Linked DNA regions of Homo sapiens: region 1 is linked to region 2. A link means that fine-mapping ties the variant in region 2 to the plasma level of a protein whose gene starts in the linked region. Region 2 holds a variant in brackets. A gene starts in the other region. All regions are shown on one strand. Distances are between the middles of the regions.

Region 1 (8,000 bases), 72 Mb before region 2:
GAGGTTGTAGTGAGTCAAGATCGCGCCATCGCACTCCAGCTTGGGCAACAAGAGCGAAACTCTGTCTCAAAAAAAAATTTAATCTAATTTAATTTAATTTAAAAATTAGCACGGTGGTTGGGCACAGTGGCTCACGCCTGTAATCCCAGCACTTTGGGAAGCCAAGGTGGGCAGATCACAAGGTCAGGAATTCGAGACCAGCCTGGCCAATATGGGGAAACCCCATCTCTACTAAAAATACAAAAAATTAGCCGGGTGTGGTGGCGCACGCCTGTAATCCCAGCTACTCGGGAGGTTGAGGTAGGAGAATCACTTGAACCCAGGAGGCAGAGGTTGCAGTGACCCGAGATCACACCATTGCACTCTAGCCTGGGCAACAAGAGCAAAACTCCATCTCAAAAAAAATTATAAAAATTATACATCAGTAGATGAATGGGTAAACAAAATGTGGTGGTCTATACACACAATGGAATATTATTTGGCCACAAAAAGAAATGAAGCACTGATAGGATGTAGCTGCACCCTGAAAATATTTGACAAGTAAAAGAAGCCGGACACCAAAGGTCACAAACTGCATGACCCCATCTATATGCAATATCCGCTACAGCCAAATCCATAGGGACCAAAAGCGGATTAGTGGCTGCCGGGGCCAGAGTTACTGTTAATGAGTACCGAGGTGGCGTTTGGGATGATGAAAAAGTTCTGACCTAGATAGTGGTGATGGCTGCATAACACTAAGTGTTCTTAATATCACCAAATTTTATACCTGAAAAATGGCTACAATGGTAATTTATGTCTATTTTATCACCTTTTTTAAAACAAAAAAGATATAAGGGGTACAGCAGAGTGAGTGCTGCATATGCATTTACTATTATTCTTGGGTTACATCCCAGGTACTCAATAAATGTTCACTGCCCTGAAGAAACACCTGCTACGAGTCAGGCACCTCACAGTTGTTATCCGTTTAATTCTCACAATCTGAGAAGAAACTGTCACCCTCATTTTATATAATAAATGAGAAAACAGACTCGGGCAAGTGTCACAATAGAATCAAGAGGCAGAATAAACTGACTTCCAATGCCAAATCCATGCCGAAATTCAGTGCTATAATAATGTACATGGCCGGGCGCGGTGGTTCACGCCTGTAATCCCAGAACTTTGGGAGGCTGAGGCGGGAGGATCACCTGAGGTCGGGAGTTTGAGATCAGCCTAACACGGTGAAACCCTGTCTCTACTAAAAATACAAAATTGGCATGGTGGCATGCACCTGTGATCCCAGTTACTCGGGAGGCTGAGGCAGGAGAATCGTTTGAACCCGGGAGGCGGAGGTTGCAGTGAGCCGGAATGGCGCCACTGCACTCACCGCACCCGGCCAATTTTTGTGTTTTTAGTAGAGACTAAATACCATATAGTGAACACCTAAGACGGGGGGCCTTGGATCCAGGGCGATTCAGAGGGCCCCGGTCGGAGCTGTCGGAGATTGAGCGCGCGCGGTCCCGGGATCTCCGACGAGGCCCTGGACCCCCGGGCGGCGAAGCTGCGGCGCGGCGCCCCCTGGAGGCCGCGGGACCCCTGGCCGGTCCGCGCAGGCGCAGCGGGGTCGCAGGGCGCGGCGGGTTCCAGCGCGGGGATGGCGCTGTCCGCGGAGGACCGGGCGCTGGTGCGCGCCCTGTGGAAGAAGCTGGGCAGCAACGTCGGCGTCTACACGACAGAGGCCCTGGAAAGGTGCGGCAGGCTGGGCGCCCCCGCCCCCAGGGGCCCTCCCTCCCCAAGCCCCCCGGACGCGCCTCACCCACGTTCCTCTCGCAGGACCTTCCTGGCTTTCCCCGCCACGAAGACCTACTTCTCCCACCTGGACCTGAGCCCCGGCTCCTCACAAGTCAGAGCCCACGGCCAGAAGGTGGCGGACGCGCTGAGCCTCGCCGTGGAGCGCCTGGACGACCTACCCCACGCGCTGTCCGCGCTGAGCCACCTGCACGCGTGCCAGCTGCGAGTGGACCCGGCCAGCTTCCAGGTGAGCGGCTGCCGTGCTGGGCCCCTGTCCCCGGGAGGGCCCCGGCGGGGTGGGTGCGGGGGGCGTGCGGGGCGGGTGCAGGCGAGTGAGCCTTGAGCGCTCGCCGCAGCTCCTGGGCCACTGCCTGCTGGTAACCCTCGCCCGGCACTACCCCGGAGACTTCAGCCCCGCGCTGCAGGCGTCGCTGGACAAGTTCCTGAGCCACGTTATCTCGGCGCTGGTTTCCGAGTACCGCTGAACTGTGGGTGGGTGGCCGCGGGATCCCCAGGCGACCTTCCCCGTGTTTGAGTAAAGCCTCTCCCAGGAGCAGCCTTCTTGCCGTGCTCTCTCGAGGTCAGGACGCGAGAGGAAGGCGCCGCCCCTCCCCAAGGAAAGGCGAGGGCCTGGGGCACACCCCCAGTGCCCAGATCCAGGCGCGCCTCTTTCCACCTCCAGCAGGTTTGGGGCCTCGGCCATGGGGGCACCGAACTGCGTGCAGCCTGACCCTCCCGAATGGGGTGGTAGGTGAGGGCCGCGGGACGCCCCGGGCGGCGGGCTGCGAGGACGGCCGACTCTGCCCATCCCGAGGGCGGCTGGCTTCGCCCTCCCCACTCTGCGCCGAGCACGCGGCCCGGACCCACCGCGAGAACTCCGCACCTGCAGCGTGAACGCACGCGGGCGGCGTTAAGGGCCCGGGGCTGACTCGGAGCAGGTTAGGGAACAGCGCCCCCTCCCGGCGCGAGCCGGTACCTGCGCAGCACCCAGCCGCCGCGGCTGTGGCCTGGAATCGGGGACCTGGGGTGCCGGGGGGTTGTGGTGAAGGAGGTGGGACCAGCCCCAGCACCTAGCCACGTAGCTGGCGAGGTGGACCAGGAACCGACCCAGACCCCTGCCGTCACCCGACATCACTACGGAGAGTGAAGCTTTTTTATATTTGTCCACATAAAACCAATCATGGTCATTGTAGAACTTCCGAAAACAAGGCTTGCTGCACCTTCCTGTGTATCCCAGGTCCAGGAATGGGTGCAGCACATCCTTCAGCTGCCGCTTGACACGCGGCAAACTGTGTCATGTGTAAACAAGAACAGGACATGGCTGTCATATCCAAGAGCACATGTGTAACACAGACATGCCACACACACACACACACACACACGGGGTAGAGGCAGGCCTCATCCACACCCCTAACATTTGATGCGTAGCTGTTCCAGTCTTCTAGGCACATGTAGAGATGCTTTTCCTCAGAAATGGTATTCTCAAGGTGACACTGAGGAAAAGTGGACAGGCCGGGCGCGGTGGCTCACGCCTGTAATCCCAGCACTCCGGGAGGCCGAGGCGGGCGGATCACGAGGTCAGGAGATCGAGACCATCCTGGCTAACACTGTGAAACCCCGTCTCTACTAAAAATACAAAAAAATAGCTGGGGGTGGTGGCGGGCGCCTGCATTCCCAGCTACTCGGGAGGCTGCGGCAGGAGAATGGCGTGAACCCCGGAGGCGGAGCCTGCAGTGAGCCAAGATTGCGCCACTGCACTCCAGCCTGGGCGACAGAGTGAGACTCCGTCTCAGAAAAAATAAAAATAAAAATAAAAATTAGCTGGGTGTGGTGCGGGCGCCTGTAATCCCAACTTCAGGAGGCTGAGGCAGGAGGATGGCTTGAACCCGGGAGGCGGAGGTTGCGGTGAGCCGAGATCACACCATTGCACTCCAGCCTGAGCGACAGAGCGAGACTCCGTCTCAAAAAAAAAAAAAAGAGGAGGGGGCGGGGGGAAGAGCCAGAGAAAATATTTGCTACATGTGGCAGATAAAGGTTATTATCTCTACTACATTAGATCTCCGGGCGGGGCATGGTGGCTCACGCCTGTAATCCCAGCACTTTGGGAAGCAGAGGCCGGTAGATCACCTGAGGTCAGGAGTTTAAGACCAGCCTGGCCAACATGGTGAAACCCCGTTTCTACTAAAAATATAAAAACTAACTGGGTGTGGTGGTGCATGCCTGTACTCCCAGCTACTCGGGAGGCTGAGACAGGAGAATCACTTGAACCAGAGTCGGAGGTTGGAGTGAGCTGAGATTGCACCACTGCACTCCAGCTTTGCGACAGAGCGAGACTGTCTCAAACAAAAAAAAAAAAAAAGAAAAGAAAAAATCTGGCCCCTAGCCCACCCGTGAGCCCCCTCTTGGATCCACGTTCTAGTTTCTATCCTTGGGGTAGCTCGAGTCAGTCTCACCTCAATCATCCTGTGTGCTCCCAGAGCACAGGACCTGCGGCTGCTGCAACTTCGCGCACAGGAGCAAGCACTTGGAGCCCAGGAGGCTCAGGGGCCCTGAGGAAGCACCAGGCTCTCAGACTCCTGTAACTAGGTGTGGACACCCTCCTGGGATTACATCTGGAGCATCACTGAAGGTGGAAGAGCCAGACCGCATCCTCCCTGGAGATGTGGAGGTTGGAGGGAGCTGGCCCTGGCTCAAGGGCTCAGCCCACTTGGTACAGAACCTACCCAGAGGTGCAGATCCAAGGGAGCAGGGGGAGCAGCTGTGGGCCCTCCACACTGTTGGGGAGACTCATGCCCACTCAAGTCCAGGGGAATTTGCACTCTGCCTTTTTTTTTTTTTTTTTTTTTTGAGATGGAGTCTTGCTCTGTCACCCAGGCTGGAGTGCAGTGGTGCAATCTCAACTCGCTGCAATCTCCACCTCCCGGGTTCAAGCGAATCTCCTGCCTCAGCCTCCTGAGTAGCTGGGATTACAGGTGCCTGCCACGCCTGGCTCATTTTTATATTTTTAGTAGAGACGGGGTTTCACCATGTTGGCCAGGATGGTCTCAATTTCTTAACCTTGTGATCCACCTGCCTTGGCCTCCCAAAGTGCTGGGATTGCAGATGTAAGCCACCGCGCCTGGCCATACTCTGCCTTTTCAAAGCCACTCCTACACAGGTGGTGGTGAAGGCTGCACAACAATGTAGATACACGTCGTGCCACTGAACTGTACACTGAAAAACTGTTATAACGGCACGTTTTGTGTGCACTTTACTATAATAAAAAATGTTCCATCCTGGCTGGGCGCGGTGGCTCACGCCTATAATCCCAGCACTTTGGGAGGCCGAGGCGGGCAAATCATAAGGTCACGAGATTGAGACCATCCTGGCTAACACAGTGCAACCCCGTCTCTACTAAAAAAAACACACAAAAAATTGGCCGGGCGTGATAGCGGGCGCCTGTAGTCCCAGCTATTCGGGAGGCTGAGGCAGGAGAATGGCGTGAACCAGGGAGGCGGAGCTTGCAGTGAGCCGAGTTTGCGCCACTGCATTCTAGCCTGGGTGACAAAAGCGAGACTCCGTCTCAAAAAAAAAAAAAAAAAAGTTCCATCCTGGCCAACGTGGTTCTGGCTCCAGGCTGCCACCCCTCCCCCAAAGGATGCCACCCCAGATAGGGGTCCTCGGCCTGCTCCAGCACCTGCCTGTCCCATGACGGCTGCACACTGGGGTAGGAAACGGCCTCCGCATCCTCCTCTCCTCCCCCCAGGACTACCCTTAACCCACTCAGGGCTTCGGTCAAGGCCCATGCGCTCCCCAAGCCCAAGGTAACCCTGTGCAGGAGGCAAAGGTGGTACAAGGCACAGCCCATCCAGCTAGTTTGGCGCCGACAGCACCCACCAAACAGAGCCATTTACCTTTAAAAAAATCACTGCCAGCTGTGGTGACACACCTGTAATCCTAGTGCTTTGAGAGGCTGAGGTGGGAAGACTGCTTGAGCCCAGGAGTTCCCAAGAATATCCTGAGCAACATAGTGAGACCTGTCTCCACAAAAACATAAAAAATTAGCCAAGTGTGGTAGTGCACACCTATGTCCCAGTTACTTGGAGGCTGGGGCAGGAGGATCACTTAAGTCCAGGAGTTCAAGGCTGCAGTAAGCCATGACTACAACACTGCACTCCAGCATGGGTGACAAAGCAAGCATCGTCTCAAAAAAAATAAATAAATAATTTTGGCCAGGTGCCGTGGCTTACGCCTGTGATCCCAGCACTTTGGGAGGTCAAGGCGGGTGGATCACGAGGTCAGGAGTCCAAGACCAGCCTGGCCAAGATGGTGAAACGTTGTCTCTACTAAAAATACAACAATTAGCCGGGCATGGTGGCGGGCCCCTGTATTCCCAGCTAGTCGGGAGGCTGAGGCAGAGGGTGCAGTGAGCCGAGACTGCATCACCGCGCTCTAGCCTAGGAGACAGAGCGAGACTCCGTCTCAAAAAAAAAAAAAAAAAGTTTTTTTTTAATCGCCAAATGTTCTGGAGAGGCCCCCTTCTCTTCTGTTCTCCTGCAGTCTGGGCTGCAGGCCAAGGTGGTCCCTGTGGGTGGAGACAAGGGCCGGTTCCACCTGACACTACAGACCCCTTCACATGGGAGGGATACACTTCCAGACCCATATATCTCCGAGTAGCCATCTTTGGCGAGATTTACTGGTACTGCAGTGGAAAGGAAGGACTCGCTGTACTGGGTGAAAAAAGTGAAAACATGGGACTCCTATCGCAGACTCTGACAGCAGAACCTGGTGTGGGTTATTTGGGAGGAGGGAGGGAGGAGGGAGAAAGGAAGAGCTGTTGTGGGTGCTATCAGCGAAACTGCACCGGGGGCATGAAGCTCAGTTTGGTCAGCACCACCTGGCAGGTGTACCAAAAGCCCACCCGACTGTCCCTGCACGGTAGAGAGGCAGGAGCGCCTCTCCCTGCACGGATGGTGCCCCGGAGGCTACCAGGGGCGGCCGAGGACACTGATGCTGCATCCCAGGAGGACCTGTCCTTCAGCTGTAATCAGCAGACACGGGGGACAGGATGGCCAGGGGCACAGCACCTTTTCTGTAAACCCCACACCCTGACCCCCCCCACCCAAAAAAGCAAAAAACAACTATTTGTCTACACATACAATTTTATGCCCAGATGGAAAAAGATCCAAATGATTCACAGTGGTGATGGCTCTGAGGGTGACGCTGTCTGCTTAAGGCCCAGGGAAACCCAGGTGCAAACTCACACTCATCACCCAGGCAGCCACAGCCATGAACACAACGTGGGCTTGGGAACAGGGAGCCCAGACCCAACCACTCCCTCCTAGAAGACGAAGAGGAAAGCACATGTGCTGAACAAGTACCCTGAGTCCCACCTGCAGGAAAAGGTGCAGGTAAGGAATACGGACACGGGAGGAATACGGACACGGAGGGAACAGCGACACGGGGGGAACAGCGACACGGGGGGAACAGCGACACGGGGGGAACAGCGACACGGGGGGAACAGCGACACGGGGGGAACAGCGACACGGGGGGAACAGCGACACGGGGGGAACAGCGACACGGGGGGAACAGCGACACGGGGGGAACAGCGACACGGGGGGAACAGCGACACGGGGGGAACAGCGACACGGGGGGAACAGCGACACGGGGGGAACAGCGACACGGGGGGAACAGCGACACGGGGGGAACAGCGACACGGGGGGAACAGCGACACGGGGGGAACAGCGACACGGGGGGAACAGCGACACGGGGGGAACAGCGACACGGGGGGAACAGCGACACGGGGGGAACAGCGACACGGGGGGAACAGCGACACGGGGGGAACAGCGACACGGGGGGAACAGCGACACGGGGGGAACAGCGACACGGGGGGAACAGCGACACGGGGGGAACAGCGACACGGGGGGAACAGCGACACGGGGGGAACAGCGACACGGGGGGAACAGCGACACGGGGGGAACAGCGACACGGGGGGAACAGCGACACGGGGGGAACAGCGACACGGGGGGAACAGCGACACGGGGGGAACAGCGACACGGGGGGAACAGCGACACGGGGGGAACAGCGACACGGGGGGAACAGCGACACGGGGGGAACAGCGACACGGGGGGAACAGCGACACGGGGGGAACAGCGACACGGGGGGAACAGCGACACGGGGGGAACAGCGACACGGGGGGAACAGCGACACGGGGGGAACAGCGACACGGGGGGAACAGCGACACGGGGGGAACA
Region 2 (16,669 bases):
ATTGGCCAGGCATGGTGGCTCACACCTGTAATCCCAGCACTTTGAGAGGCTGAGGTGGGCAGATTACTTGAGGCCAGAATTTTGAGACCAGCCTGGGCAACATGGCGAAACCCCATCTCTACTAAAAATACAAAAATTAGCCGGGCATGGTGGTGTGCACCTATATCTAGTCCCAGCAACTCGGGAGGCTGCGGTAGGAGAATCATTTGAACCTGAGAGGTGGAGGTTGCAGTGAGCCAAGATGGCGCCACTTCACTCCAGCCTGAGCGACAGAGCAAGACTCTGTCTCAAAAAAAATAAAAGGATGCAGGCTGGGCGCAGTGGCTCAAGCCTGTAATCCCAGCACTTTGGGAGGCCAAGGCGGGAGGACTGCTTGAGCTTAGGAGTTCGAGGCCAGCCTGGGCAACATGGCGAAAACCCATCTCTACAAAATATACAAAAATTAGCTGCGCATGGTGGTGCACGCCTGTAATCCCAGCTACTCGGGAGGCTGAGGCAGGAGAATCACTTGAACCCAGGGGGCAGAAGTTTGCAGTGAGCCGAGATTAGGCCATTGCACTCCATCCTGGGCAACAAGAGCAAGACTCTGTCTCAAAAAAAAAAAAAAAAAAAGGATGCATGTTATGTGCCCATCAGATTATGTACTTATTAGCTGTGGGTGATCATGTAAATTTTGTGTGCCTCAGTTTCCCAATGTGTAAAATGGGAATAAGGACAGCACCGATCTCAGAGGGTTACTACACGGATTAAATGTGAAGTGCTTAGAATAGTGCTTAGCATATTCTAAATTTCTAATAAATGTTAGCTATTATTTTTATATTTCTGATTATCACAAATGGGTCCTGAAAATAGATATTAGTATACCCATAGTTACAGATAAAACAAAGGCTTTGAGAGATTAAATAACTTCCCTAAACCATACGGCCAGGATTCAATAGAACTGGAGCCCCCAGGGTATGAACATCTCCTCCCGATGCAAGCTGTTGGCAGGAAGTGTAGGTGAACCTCTCCATAGGGCTGCTTGAGTGTTCTCACAACATGGCATCCAGCTCCTCCAGCGTGAGTGATCTAAGAGGGAGCAAGGTGGAAGCTACAGTGCCTTTATGACCTAGTCTTGGAAGTCACACATCATTACTTATGCCACATTCATTCTAATTTTATTTATGGAGACAGGGTCTTGCTCTGTCACCCAGGCTGGAGTGCAACGGCATGATCACGGCTCACCGCAACCTCCCAGGCTCAAGCAATCCTCCCACCTCAGCCTCCTGAGTAGCTGGGACTACAGGCACGTGCCACTAGGGCTCCCTAAGTTTTGTATTTTTTGTAGAGATTGGATCTTACTATGTTGCCCAGGCTGGTCTCGAACTCCTGGGTTCCAGTGATCCTCCAGTCTTGGCCTTCCAAAGTGCTAGGATTACAAGCATGAGCTACTGTGCCCAGCCTCATTCTACACATTGGAATAGAGTTGCTAGTTTAAGCAAAACTAAAACAAAAGGATGCCCAGTTAAATTTGAATTTGAGATAAACAATGAATACACTTTTAGTATAAGTCTATCGTCTATCCCATGCAGTATTCAGGACATACTTATTCTAAAATTTATTTGTTGTTTATCTGAACTCAAATTTCATTGGGTATCATATATTTTCTCTGGCAACCCTATGTTAGAAGCAAGTCATTTAGTCCAGCCCACCACTCAAGGGAAGGGCTTCCACTTTTGAAGGGAGGAATGTCCAATAATTTGTGGAGATATTTTTCAGCCACCACAAGCAGGGTTTTGGAAAAGTTCACCTGGTTCTGGGGTCTGTGGATAATTGTATGCGAGCCTAACAGGATGAAGCAGTAGTTCAGGGACAAGAAGGTTTTCTTCCAAATGGTCTTGCACATTTTCCAGAAATCACACACATTATCTTATTTGAGCCTCAGACAGCTCTGTGGAGTAGGTGAGGGTGGCAATTACAATCCCCATTTTACAGGCGAGGAAACAGATTAAGCACCTGCTCCAAGGTGATATGGGCAGAAATGGTGGAGGGGACAACAAATTCCCCTAATCTCAAGTCTGGCATTTGTTCTACTCCACCCAGTCATGTCCTGACAGAGTACTGATGTCTCCACTATATAAGATGTCTTAGATTCATTTTCTGTCTTCTGCCATGTTGTTATCTCACATAAGTGATGGGATTTGTGGATCCTCGCAGCAGTGCTGGGTGATGACAGAAGACTATTGGAGAAGCTGCGGCTGGAGGGCAGCTTTCTCTCCCCACATCCACAAGCTCTGAGATCCATCTTGGCTGAGACCATGGGCTTCAACCCACTCCTCAGACCCTTTGTGTTGACTGGTTCCAGAATACTGCCAGGAACCTCACTCATTTTCACCAGGAGGCCATCGGCCTCACATGAGAAAGCTGAGGAACAGTCAGCCCAAATAGATAATTACCCTCCTGTAATTTGTATTATAAGGAATTTTAGGCTGGGCATGGTGGCTCATGCCTGTAATCTCAGCACTTAGGGAGGCCAAGATGGGCTGATCACTTGAGGCCAGGAGTTCTAGACCAGTCTAGGCAACATGGGGAACCCTGTCTCTACTAAAAAAACAAATAACAGCCAAGCATGGTGGTGTATGTCTGTAGTCCCAGCTACTCAGGAGTCTGAGGCAGGAGAATTGCTTGAACCTGGGAGGCAGAGGCTACACTGAGCCAGGATTGTGCCACTGCACTCCAGCCTGGGTGACAGAGCAAGACTCTGTCTCAAAAAAAAGAAAATTTAGATATACAGAAAATCAGAAAGAATAGTATAATAGATATCCATACTCCTTCCACCTACACTCAGTAATTCTTACTATCTTTTCCCTGTTGGCTCTGCCAATCTTTTAACCTATTTTTATTGTGTATTTTGATTCACTCCTAAGTACTTTGTAACCTGCATTATCTAAGTACATGCTCCTATGTAACCATAAGTCTATAATCACACATAAGAGAATTAACCATGATTTGCTAATATCATCTAACACTGAGTTCGTGTTCAAATTTCTCCTGTTGTATCCAAAATATCTTCCATATCCAATCAACGCTCATCCATATGCCTCTTTAGTTTCTTTTATTTCTTTTATTTTATTTTATTTATTTTTATTTTTTGAGACGGAGTCTCGCTCTGTTGCCCAGGCTGGAGTGCAGTGGAGCGATCTCGGCTCACTGCAAGCTCCGCCTCCTGCGTTCACGCCACTCTTCTGCCTCAGCCTCCCGAGTAGCTGGGACTACAGGCGCCTGCCACTACGCCTGGCTAATTTTTTGTATTTTTTAGTAGAGATGGGGTTTCACTGTGTTAGCCAGGATGGTCTTGATCTCCTGACCTCATGATCCACCAGCCTTGGCCTCCCAGAGTGCTGGGATTACAGGCATGAGCCACTGTGCCCGGCCTATTTTTTTTTTTTTTTTTTGAGAGGGAGTCTCACTCTGTTGCCCAGGCTGGAGTGCAATGCGCAATCTCTGCTCACTGCAACCTCCACCTCCTGGGTTCAAGCGATTCTCCTGCCTCAGCTTCCCGAGTAGCTGGGATTACAGGCGGCTGCCACCACACCCAGCTAATTTTTTTTGTATTTTTAGTAGAGACAGGGTTTCACCATGCTGGCCAGCTGGTCTCAAACTCCTGACCTCAGGTGATCCGCCCACCTTGGCCTGCCAAAGTGCTGGGATTACAGGCATTGAGCCACCGCACCCAGCTAGTTTCTTTTAATCTAGAACAGTAACCTCTCATGAGATCAGTCCAGTTATCTTGTAGATGGCTGTTTTAGTCTATTCTCATGCTGCTAATAAAGACATACCTGAGACTGGGTAATTTATAAAGGAAAGAGGTTTAATTGACTCACAGTTCAGCATGGCTGGGGAGTTCTCAGGAAACTTACAATCATGGTGGAAGGGGGAAGCAAACATGTTCTTCTTCACATGGCGGCAGACTGAGAAGTGCAGAGTGAAGGTCGGGGGAAAGCCCCTTATAAAACCATCAGATCTCATGAGAACTCACTATCATGAGAACAGCATGAGGATAACTGCCCCCTGATTCAATTACCTTCCACCAGGTCCCTTCCATGACATGTGGGGATTATGGGAACTACAATTCAAGATAAGATTTTGGTGGGGACACAGCCAAACCATATCAATGGTTCCATGTTCTGGATTCCCAGCATAAAGACATTTCCTGATTTCCAGTATAGTTGGATGTGGTCCAGTGACCAAGTTCTATTCAATGACATATATATGAAAGTATTGTGTGAAGTTTCTGGAAAGTCTGCTGCTGCCTGGAATATGGGTATGATGGCTGGAGCTCTGGCATCCATTTTAGACCTAAGGATCAGGGTCATTCTGCAGGGATGATGGAGGCAAAAGCTGGAAACAGCTTAATGCTGACACTAATACCAGCTCTGTCTGCCTACTTCCCTACCTCTTTTACTTGAGAAAACAGAACCTTGTGTATGTGTGTGTGTGTGTGTAATTAAAAATTAAAAAAAAATTTTTTAGACGAGGTCTCACTTGCTCTGTCACCCAGGCTGGAGTACACTGGCATGATCATGGCTCACTGCAGCCTCAATCTCCTGGGCTCAAGTGATCCTCCCACCTCAGCCTCCAGAGCATCTGGGACTACAGGTGTGTGCCACCACACCTGGCTAATTTTTGTATTTTTTGTAGGCATGGGGTTTCACTCTGTTGCCCAGGCTGGGACCTTGTGTGCTTTAATCCCTGTTAAGTCACTTAGTCAAATTTAATCCTAGCTAATAAAGAAGACAGATTGAGGTCTACTATAGTTTTATATTTGCTTGGAAGAGATGTTATGTGCTTACTACTTGGCTAAAACATGTTTCAGGATTTCTCTTTTTCCTCCAGGTACAGACCTCCGGTCCCAACACACCATAAGAACATTCTGAGATGATAATGTTACCTACCCTCTAGTCTGGGCCACCTATGATGTTGAATGAGTCTTGGCAGCCAGGGAAAATTTCTGTAAGAGCCTTGTGGTTAGACACATAGGAAATAAAGTCACTGTGGCTTGTCACATGCAAGAGGACAGCAGGGGACAGGGCATAGCGCTGTGTGTGCAGGAACAGTGTGGGAATGATCTGGAATTTGTGAAATACCTGGGCAGCAATACAAGGACGAGGCTCCAAAGGGCAGGGCTTCAGGAGAGGAAATGGATAAACACTGCACTTCTTGCATTACTGCCAGCCACAAAGAGGTTTCCTGAGTGCTGAAAACCCCATCTGGAAAGTGTCCCATAGGAAACAAAAGGAGTTACAGTGTGTGAAGGTCACTTGGCTGCTGCACCACCTGCCACCCCATTAATCACTTGAGTTGGTGGGTACAGGAACAAAGCTGTGGGCAGAGGGTCAGAACACTTCCTGTCTGCCCCAGGCACATGGAAGACATTCTCCTGAGTAGTAACCTTGGCACTGCCTTGGCTATTTGAGAAGCTGGCCAGTTACGTATTTCAGTCACTGGGTATTTGAGAAGCTGGCCAGTCTTTTGAGCTTCAACCATTCTCACAGATGTTGAATTTGCAGTTCTTAATGGATCTAGTGACACCTTCCTACCTCAGTAGAGCAAAAAATGTGGATCCCAGGTCTGGGAACCTAAAAGAAATCACTCTGAGTAGGTTAGAATTTCACCTCTATCTGAGACCCTGACAGAATCATTTAAAAATAAAAACACATATATACAAATATCTATACACACATAGGTGTGTGTGTGTGAATAGGGTGGCCCACCTTCATGTTCTTTTACTCCCTTGTTCTTCCAGTCATTCACTGAGATGCTGAGTTTTCCAGCATCTCTCAGTCTCTCAGAAGAACCGCCTGCCAGCATCCAGTGGGTCACATCCTACGACAAGCCCAGCACCTCTTCAGTGGAAGGGGATTTGCTTTGCGGCTTGGCAAGTTTATGCAAGTCCCTGATTTCTTGCACTGACTGCTGAAAAGCAGAGCTCCATTTAAATTCCATTCCTTCTGAAGATCTGTCCTATGACCAGGGTGCATGGTTCAACTCCTCTCTGCATCTGGCTGGCACCCAGGGCACTCTTGCCCAAATGCTTTGTCAGGTAGTTTACTTGATCTGTTTCCTAACGTGCTTCCCAGCCATGGTCCACATGGTTTCAGACTGCTCCAGGGCCCCCAAGGCCAACACAGGGGTCATGCTTGGAGAAAACCTTCAATTCTTTGCAGCCTCAGGCTTCTCCAGCCTTGGGTGCCAGTGCTTTAAGGTCCTCCTTATCCTCTTTGCTGGGCATCACTGCCTCAGTCATGGTTTAAATCTGATACACAAGGTTCTTAATGGGCCTCCATAGCCATGTACAATTGACACCCTTAGCCTGGCTAATGTGGTTAGCTAGCAAGTTTGTTATCCCTTCCAGGTAAGAAATGCCTTAACCCAGTGAAAGATCTGTCTCCAGATGACCCTTAAAAGTGACTCTAATGGTGAGCCCTTGATGCTGATTATGTGAGGGAATCTTTTTTATTTTATTTTTGAGACAGGGTCTTGATCTGTTGCCCAGGCTGGAGTACAGTGGCGCAATCAGAGCTCACTGCAGCCTCTCCCAGGCTCAAGTGATCCTCCCCACTCAGTCCCCTGAGTAGCTGGAACTATAGGTGCATACCACTATGCCTGGCTAACTTCTTATTTTTTTATTTTTGTAGAGATGGATCTCCCTATGTTGCCCAGGCTCACCTTGAACTCTTGGCTTCAAGCAATCCTCCAGCATGTCCTCCCAAGTGCTGGGATTATAGGCATGAGCCACTGTGCCCAGCACATGTGAGGGAGTCTTGAGAATTCTGTGTAGTTTGTCATGTGGGAGAGGTAGCACCCCAGGGTGGTCAAGGGCTTGGCCTGGGTTTGAATCCTGGCTCCTCTCTTTGCTAGCTGTGTTACCTTGAACAAGTTCCTTATCCTCTCTGTGCCCCATTTATAAAAAACGGGATTATTAGATAATAAAAAGACCCAATGCTTATGGGCTGTTGAAGAATTAAATGAGTAAATACACAGAAAGCACATAGCACAGTGCCTGGCACACAGAACCCTCCCAATGTTACCTGTTATTACTAGGAGTTGACTGGCTTTTCTCCTAAAGTACCTGCAGGGCTGGTTCTGCGGACAGCTTTTATGCTTCTGAGGGCTGGATCTTCTCCACTGCAGACAGAAGATGACAATACAGGCATTACTTACTCGTGTTACAGTTTTTATTTCTGCCCCTATTCTGAACTCTTTGAAGGCAGAGGCTATGTTTATCCCCCATTCAATTCAACCAACCGGACTGAGCCTCTGTTGTATGCCAGGCATTGCTGGGCCATGGAGATAAGGGTGAATGAAAAAACACCGACTTGGTCCTACCTTGTTTCCTGGGACCCATCCCACAAACGTGGTAGGTTGAAGAAATTAAGGAAGGTTGATATGAATTCTTTTGAATATAGAGTCAGTTTTTACACTCGTACTAATATCCTCATGCCTTTGACATCTGACCAGTTTCATGCTGGGAAAGGCAGCATTTCTTTGTAAGTTTTGACAGGCTGTGTGGGTTTCCCACCTTGGTTGGCTGTCTTTGCTGACAGGAAGCTGGTCTGAGGATAATATTTGATTTAGCAGCCTGGATCTTGGAAGTTCCTCATTTACAAACTGTCAGGGATGATCCTACTTTTAAGAAGCTCTTAAAAAGCTTAAAATATCAATGTGTATGGTACAAAATATCAATATGTGTGTCTGCCAGTGGCTCAGTTTTGGAGAAGAGAATTGCTGACCGTAAGGCAGTGCAACTGGGAAGCAATGCCTATGTTCCAGGCACCGTGGGACCCTGTAGCCCCTGGTCCTGGTGACTGTGAAAAAAAGGAGAAATTCTAGAAATAGGTGTAATCATGTGAATGTCTT[TG/T]TTTAATTTTCTTATCAAGATAAACTGCAATTCTGAACAACATGTGCTGTTCTGAATTCAACAGTCCACTCTCCATTCTGTTTGAAGGTCATGTATACTCTTGTGAAAATCCAGGGTTCTCATTTCATGGCTACTGAGGTATTTATTCCTATACTATTTAAATCAATTAAAAAATATCATTTACAATAACATAAACATCAAATGCTTAAGAATAAATCTAATGAAAGAGGTGCCAGAGGTCTGTATCAATATGAACAAGGCATTAAAATTAAAGACAGCCTAAATAAATGAAGAGAGATGCTACGTGCATTACTCGAAAGACTCAACAGAGTCAAGATGTCAACTCTCCCCAAAGTGATCTGGAGATTCAATGTAATCCCAATAAAAATCCCATCAGGACATTTTGTGAGAATTGGAAAGTTGATTTTAAAATTTACATAAAATGGAAAAGACCTAGAATAGTCAAGACAAACTCTGAAAGAAAATAAAGTTGGAACACTTATAATACCAGATAGCAAGATTTAGTATAAAGTTCCCATTATTGGCCAGGTGTGGAGGCTCATGCCTGTAATGCCAGCACTTTAGGAAGCTGAGGTGGGTGGATCACTTGAGCCCAAGAGTTCAAGTCCAGCCTGGTCAACATGGCAAAACCACATCTCTACAACTACAACAACAACAAGTTGGCTGTGTGTGGTTGCGCATACCTGTAGTCTCAGTTACCTGTGAGGCTGAGGTGGGAGGATTGTTGGAGATCATTGTTGAGGCTGCAGATTGTGTCCCTGCACTCCTGCCTGGGGGACAGTGAGACCCTGTCTCAAAAAAAGTTCCCATTTGTGAACCCCCAAAATTTGAGACAGGTTTCGGTTAATTTAGAAAGCTTATTTTGCCAAGGTTGAGGACGCACACCCAACACAACCTCAGGAGGTCCTGATATATGTCCAAGGCGGTCAGAGCACAGTTTGGTTTTATACATTTTAGGGAGACCTGAGACATCAATCAACATACGTAAGATGAACACTGGTTCCGTCCGCAGAGGCGGGACAAGTCTCAAAGCCAGGAGGGGGCTTCCAGGTCATAGGTAGATAAGAGACAAATGGTTACATTCTTTTGAGGTTCTGATGAGCCTCTCCAAAAGAGGCAAAAGGATATGCATTTATCTCAGTGAGCAGAGGGGTGGCATTGAATAGAATGGGAGGCAGGTTTGCCCTAAGCAGTTCTCTGCTTCACTTTTCCCTTTAGCTTAGTGATTCTGGGGGTTTAAGATAGTTTCCTTTCACACATTATTATTATTATTATTATTATTATTATTTATTTTTTTATTTTTATTTTTTGAGACAGAATCTCGTTCTGTCGCCCAGGCTGGAGTGCAGTGGCGCGATCTCAGCTCACTGCAACTTCCGCCTTCCGGGTTCAAGCGATTCCCCTGCCTCAGCCTCCGAGTAGCTGGGACTACAGGCGCCCGCCACCATGCCCAGCTAATTTTTTGTACTTTAGTAGGGATGGGGTTTCACCATGTTGGCCAGAATGATCTCGATCTCCTGACCTCGTGATCCACCCGCCTCGGCCTCCCAAAATGCTGGGATTACAGGCGTGAGCCACCGCACCCAACCTCCTTTCACACATTATTAAGACAGTATGACAATGGCTCCAGATTAGACAAATAGACTAATGGAAAAGAATAGAGGATTCAGGAGGAGGCCAACACATATATAATCACCTGATGTATAATAAAGATACCACTGGAATTCAGGGACAAAGGATGGTCATTTTAGCAAATAATACTGGATCGATTGCATGCCTATATGGAAAAAATGAACTTTTCTCTCACATCCTATACCAACATTAATTCCAAATGGATCATAGACCTAGATTTGAAAGGTAAAACAATACACTTTTAGAAAAACATATAGGAGAATATTGTCACAACCTTGTAGGCAAAAATTTCTTAATCAGAACACAGAAATCACTAACTATGAAATTTAAAAAACTGACAAATTAGGACTTATTTAAGATTAAGAACTTCTGTACTTCTGTTCATCAAAATACAAGATTAAAAGAATTAAAGGACAAACCATGGAATGGGAGAACATGTTTACAATACATTTATCCAAAAAAAGACTAGTATTCAGAATATTTTAGAAAAAGACAACAAATCTACAAGGAGAAGACATACTGTAAAGAGGATATCTAAGTGGTCCAACACAAATCTAAAAAGTGGTCTACATCATTTGATATTGGGGAAATGCAAAATTAAAGCCATTATTATTATTTTTATTTATTTATTTATTTTTTGAGATGGAGTCTTGCTCTTTCCCCCAGGCTGAAGTGCAGTGGTGCGATCTCAGTTCACTGCAACCTCTGCCCCCAGGTTCAAACGATTCTCCTGCCTCAGTCTCCTGAGTAGCTGGGACTACAGGCCCATGCCACCACACCCGGCTGATTTTTGTATTTTTAGTAGAGACGGGGTTTCGCTGTGTTGGCCAGGCTGGTCTCGAACTCCTGACCTCAGGTGATCCACCTGCCTTGGCCTCCCAAAGTGCTAGGATTACAGGCGTGAGCCACTGTGCCTGGCCTCCATTATTATGTTTTACTACACATATGCAGAATGGCAAAACTTAAAAAGTATTGGCAAGGATGCAGAGCAACTGGAACTTTGATATACTGATGATAGGAGAGTTTATTGAAAAACTGGTAGAATCTATTAAAGCTAGACATATGCCTACCCTATGACAAAACCAGGTACGTATCCAAGAGAAATGAATGCAGGTAACCACCAAACAATATATGCAAGAATGTTCATAGCAGCTTGGTTTGCAGTAGCCCCCGGATGGAATCAATCCACACATCCATCTACAGGAGAATGGATAAATCAATTGTGCTTTAGTCACACAATGGAATACTTCTCAGCAATAAAAAAAGAAACTAATGTGACAACATGGATGTTTCTCACAGACATTATGTTGAAAAAACAAGCCAGAAACCAAGAATGCCTACTATTTGATTCTATTTATACAAAGTTCAGGACCAGGCAAAAGTATTCCATCATGACAGATGTCAGGACAGTGGTTACTTTGGTAGGGGTGGGGTGTGGGCTGAGAGGAACCCAAAGGAGTTTTCTGGGGTGCTAGAAATATTTCATACTATAAAGATTCATTGAGATGAACACTTAAGGTTTGGTATTTTTAGTAAATGATGCTGGATCAATTGTACATCCAAATGGAGTAAAATGAGTGTGGTCTCCTTACCTCACTTCCCTGTGTGTATGCAAGCTATTTATAACAGTAAAATTAAAGTACATGTGATACCTCCTTAAGTTAGGAGTATAATATAGCATTTAAGATTTTTTTTTTTTTTTTTTTTTTTGAGACAGAGTCTCGCTCTGTCACCCAGGCTGGAGTGCAGTGGCGCGATCTTGGCTCACTGCAACCTCCGCCCCCCAGGTTCAAGTGATTCTCCTGCCTCAGCCTCCTGAGTAGCTGGGATTACAGGCGCACGCCATCACACCTGGCTAATTTTTGTATTTTTAGTAGGATGGGGTTTCACCATGTTGGTCAGCCTGGTCTCAAACTCCTGACCTCGTGATCTGCCTGCCACGGCCTCCCAAAGTGCTGGGATTACAGGTGTGAGCCACCGTGCCTGGCCTAAAATGTTTTAAGAGTTTTCTACAACATGGAAAATGCCTACAACATTGGGTGATGTAGAAAGCAAAAAGTTCCTCTTCAAAATTTCCCTTCTTGTTAAAGAATAAATCATAAGTGTTAGAGATAATAGTTTCTTTTAAAAACTAACTTCCTTCAAACTTCCTTGCTTTGTGCTAATAACTCTTTGTTAAGCCCTATCCTATGTAGTTATTAAATGTAAGAAAATTAAATACATTCTATGTCCCTGTACTTTAACCAAGATATCTGTGCTAGACCTGTGCACAGGCATGTCACAGCTTGCAGCCTATGCCCCTTCCTTATTTGGGAATGTTATTACTTTTCTGAGTCTTTTCATAAGCAACTTCCTCTTTTCCTTTCTTCTCCTCTGCCATTACCTCTTTAGAAAAAGTTTTAAACCTTTAGCCAACTGGGTGCTGCCTAGACTGTCAGGTCCAGTTCCAGCCAATGGAATCAGGACACAGCAGTAGGGTCTGGATGGGTCAGATATAAATGTTTTGTACCTCCTTTGTTCAAGTGTGCTCTTGTCTTTGTTCCATCTGTGATGGGCACCCTTTCTGCAGAAAGTAAAAATTGCCTTGCTGAGAGAATTAAATTTATGTTCAAGTGCTATTTCTTTATGGCACTGGGGAACAAGCATTTTGCATTTCTAACAGATGAAAAGGTTAGGCCAAAAAATTCTATATAAAGAATGATCAAAATTGTGTAAAAGTATGCACAGAGAAAATCTGAAAGGAAGTAACACTAAAATGTTAATAGTGGTTATTGGTTGTCTTGAGGTGGTGAAATTATCGGAGACTTATTTCTTATTTTTATTTTTTGGTAGCTTATAAAATTTCAAGACTTTTGTAATGGCAGAGTAAACTTTTTGTTTTTTTGAGACAGGGTCTCACTGTCACCCAGGCTGAAGTGCAGTGGCATGATCATAGCTCACTACAGCCTCAACTCCCAGGTGCAAGCAATCCTCCCACCTCAGCCTCCAGAGTAGCTGGGACTACAGGCATGTGCCACTGTTCTTGGATAATTTTTTACGTATTTTCTGTAGAGACGGAGTTTTACCATGTTGCCCATTTTATTCCATATGGTCTCCAACTCTTGGGCTCAAGCAATCGACCCGCCTTGGCCTCCCAAAGCACTGGGATTACAGGCATGAGCCACTATGCCTGGCTGGCAGAGTGAACTTTTAAAAATCATATTTTCCTTCTAAAATCAAAACTCTCCCCTTCAAGCTCCTCTGTCAACTGCTGTCCTGGCCTATTAATATTTCAAGCTTTCCTGCTTTCTATTCTCCCAAGAAAATATATGCCTACTTTCCTTGGTGGAGTCTTCTGACTTGCTATCTCCCATCTTGACTTGTCCAGTGATAGAGAGAAGCCTTTTGGGCTGGATTCTGTTTCTCCTCAAGTTAATGAAAGATGCCCAGGGCAGGAAGGCTGTGTGTGAATGCTCCCCTGTTGCCCAAGACAAGGGGTCAGAGTAATAGAGTTCAGGGTATGTTCAGAGGAGGAACGTGAATTTTCACGTACCTGGTGAGTAAACAATTGTTCTACAAAAGTGGTGAGAAATGTTTCATTTTAGACACCCTAGGAGGGCACCAGTCTGAGGAGGAAGTCTCTCCCTCCATTTCATAGGACCAGCATTCTCCCCACTTCCCTGAGGACCCACAGAGCTGCAGAAATAGAGGCCATCTCTTCCCTCTGTGGAAAAGTAGCAGCAACTGGACAGAAAAGAAAAAAGAAGCCTGGGGCTGTGACATTTGCAAGACTCTAGATAGAGGACTGTGAGAGGCTGAGATTTGACAGTTTCTGTGGGGAGGGATGATGGACTGGATGAGGTGGGAGGGGGAGGAGGGCATGAGGATGCCATAGGACAGAAGTGCTCCAGGTTTAGTGGAATCCTTCACAGTCTACAGTGCGGGTTCTCTTTGGAAAACGTAGGGTGTAGCTCCCTCCTTCTGGCCATTGAAGGAAGACCTGGGTGGCAAAGCACAGGTAAAGACAAGCTGTGACAGAGGATAGCAGGAACCCAGGGACCTAGGGAGCAGAATTCTAACACCTTCACCCCAGATTCAGCCAGAGCAGCTCCATTTCCATCATTGCACACACCAGTTCTACTGGTTAACATCTGCTACCTATGAGTGTTCCTCACGCTTTGTAGCTTAGGACAGTCATCTTCTATTTAGCTTATGATTCTGTGGGTCAGCAATGTGGGCTGGGCTTAGCTGGAGGTGGTTTTGGTCAGGATCAGTTTCAGCTGATCTTGGCAGGAGCTCACTCATGCATCTGTGGAGGACTTCTGGAAATTTGGGGCTGGCTGTCTGTCAGCTGGAATGCCTGGGTTCCACTCTATGGGGACCTTTCATTCTCCAGCAATGGAGGAATAACTTGGGCTCATTCACAGGGTAGCCCCCAGATTCCGGGTGCTGTAAAAGCAGTCAAACCCCAATTCACAAGCATGTTTCAAGACTATCCTTGTTACATCTGCTACTATTTCAACATAGTCACAGAGCCAACCCCAGATTCCAGGGGTGGAGAAATGGGCTCCTACTTATGACTGAAGAGCTGCAGTCTATTGCCTCATACCTGCAGGGCTGGGGAGAAGTTATGGACGCTTGAAATGTAGATTCTCACATCCCCACACACACCTGTTGGATCCAATTCATGGAAAAGGGGCCTCTCACTATGTCCTTCGGGTGACTCCCTCCTCCTTAATATTTTAAAATATTTTATTTGATACTTATAATATATTATATGTGACATATATGTGTGGGCATATATGTGTTTTATTAAAAATAAAGCACAATAATATAATGTACGTTAATGAACCTACTACCCAGCCCAAAAGCTGGGTCATTAACAATTTATTTATATTTACCTAAGTGTCTTTCTCTTATGCCTTCCTCCTACCTCCTCTTGAGATGTAACATTTTACATTTTGGGTTTTCCATTCCAACAAGAAATTTAAAAATACAGTTTTGACTCTTTGATATCTATGCCTGAACAACATACTGCTGAGTCTTCTTTCTTTCTCTTTCTTCCTTCCTTTTCTCTCTTCTTTTTCTTTCTTTCTTTCCTTCCTTCTCTTTCTTTCTCTTTCTCCAATAAAAATAAGTTTACTTATTTACTTCTTGAATTTTTTGTGCTAAAATATTTGTAACATAAAATTTCCGATTTTAACCATTCTGAAGTGTACAATTCGGCAGCATTTATTACACCAGCAATGTTGTGCAACCATCACCACTATCAGTTTCCAAAATTTTTTCATCACCCCAAACAGGAACTCTGTACCCATTAAGCAATCACTTCCCATTTCTTGCTTCTCCCAGCCCCTAGTAAAGTCTAACCTACTTTTTCTTCTATGCATTTGCCTATTCTCTAGATACTTTATTATAAGTGGAATCAAGTAATATTTGTCCCTTTATGTCTGGCTTCTTTCACTTAGTATGTTTTCAAGGTTTATTCATGTTGTAGCACGTATCAACTTCATTCCTTTTTATACGTGAATAATATTCCATTGTATGTAGATATCACAGTTTGTTTATCCATTTGTCTGTGGATGGACGCTTGGATTGCTTCTACCTTTTGGATACTGTGAAAATGCTGCTATGAACATTGGTGTACACGTCTCTGAGTCTCTGATTTTAATTCTTTGGGTGTATACCCTGAAGTGGAATTGCTGGGTCAGATGGCAATTCTATGCTTAGCTTTTTGAGGAACGATAAAACTGTTTTCTACAGCAACTGCACCATTTTACATTCTTACTAGCAAGGTAATGTACCAGGGTTCTAACTCTTCCACATCCTTGCCAACATTTCTCTCTCACACACACACACACACACAAATTTGTAGCCATCCTAGTAGGTGTGAAGTGGTGTTTCATTGTGGTATTGATTTGCAAATTTCCCTATTGACATTTTCCAATGGTGTTGAGTGACTTTTTTTTTTTTTTTTTTGACGACGTCTCGCTCTGTTGCCCAGGCTGGAGTGCAGTGGTGCGATCTCAGCTCACTGCAAACTCTGCCTCCCAGGTTCAAGCAATTCTCCTGTCTCAGCCTCCCAAGTAGTAGCTGGGACTGCAGATGCATGCCACCACGCCTGACTAATTTTTGCATTTTTAGAAAATATGGGGTTTCACCATATTCGTATTGGTTAGACTGGTCTCAAACTTCCGGCCTCAGGTGATCCACCCACCTCGGCCTCCCAAGGTGCTGGGATTACAGGTGTGAGTCACTCCCCAGCCTTGAGTATCTTTTATGTGCTTTTTGGCACTTTATGTATATTTTTTGGAGAAATGTCTATTTAAATCCTTTGCCCATGCTTTAATTGTTTGTCTTTTTGTTGTTGTAGTTAGGATATGCTCTGGATAACAACCCTTTATCAGATATAGAATTTGCAAATATTTTCTCCCATTCTGTAGACTGTCTTCACTTTTTTTTTTGAGACAGAGTCTTGTTCTGTCACCCAGGCTGGAGTGCAGTGGTGCGATCTAGGCTCACTGCAACCTCTGCCTCCCAGGTTCAAGCAATTCTCCTGCCTCAGCCTCCGAGTAGCTGGGATTAAAGCATGCGCCACCATGCCTGGCTAATTTTTGTATTTTTAGTAGAGATGGAATTTCACCACATTGGTCAGGCTGGTCTCAAACTCCTGACCTCATGATCCGCCCACCTCAGCCTCCCGAAGTGCTGGGATTACAGGCGTGAGCCACCACGCCTGGCCTGTCTTCATTTTATTAATACTGTCTTTTGATACACAAATGTTCATTCCGATGAAGCCCAATTTATCTAATTTTTCTTTGATTGCTGGTGATTTTGGTGTCATTATCTAAGAATCCATTGCCAAGTTTTACTTGGTTTTGATCTCTAGAAGACTGCCATCATACTGAAGGTAATCTTCTGAAACTTGCGGTTTTCTTTCAAAAATTATGTTTATAAGATGATCCATGTTCTTGCAGAGTTTATTCATTTTATGCTGTATAATATTCCATTATATCCACATACAATGCAGTATTGACCCTTCCTCCTGTTGATGGGCATTTGTCTTGTTTCTAGTTACTTTGCTATTATATCAGTGTCACCATGATTATCCAAAAGTAATTCTTTTGTACACTCTAA

Which allele goes with the higher level. Alleles are on the strand shown, and positions count from the first base shown. The strength of an association depends on the size of the effect and on how common the allele is.
In carriers of allele TG in region 2, the plasma level of the protein whose gene starts at base 1,603 in region 1 tends to be lower than with T alone (weak association).

What was found. A credible set is the group of variants that fine-mapping cannot tell apart. PIP is the posterior inclusion probability: the model's chance that the variant is causal. The UK Biobank Pharma Proteomics Project read protein levels with antibody pairs (Olink). The fine-mapping took linkage between variants from a reference panel, not from the people measured, so its PIPs are less certain.
Region 1: HBQ1 starts here. The variant in region 2 is the best candidate, but not a certain one, in a credible set for the plasma level of the HBQ1 protein (UK Biobank, PIP 0.65).

What each region holds. Positions count from the first base shown.
Region 1 is chr16:178,857-186,856 of GRCh38, forward strand. HBQ1 (hemoglobin subunit theta 1) reads left to right here and starts at 1,603. Exons shown (of 3, transcript NM_005331.5): 1 at 1,603-1,725; 2 at 1,810-2,014; 3 at 2,124-2,323. The coding sequence starts at 1,631. The coding sequence ends at 2,252. RefSeq lists an enhancer at 2,104-2,363 and a silencer at 2,374-2,723.
Region 2 is chr16:72,037,191-72,053,859 of GRCh38, forward strand. No RefSeq gene overlaps it. Among named protein-coding and RNA genes, the nearest start is that of HP, 9.0 kb to the right of the region's middle. The variant TG/T (reference allele first, on the strand shown) is at 7,900.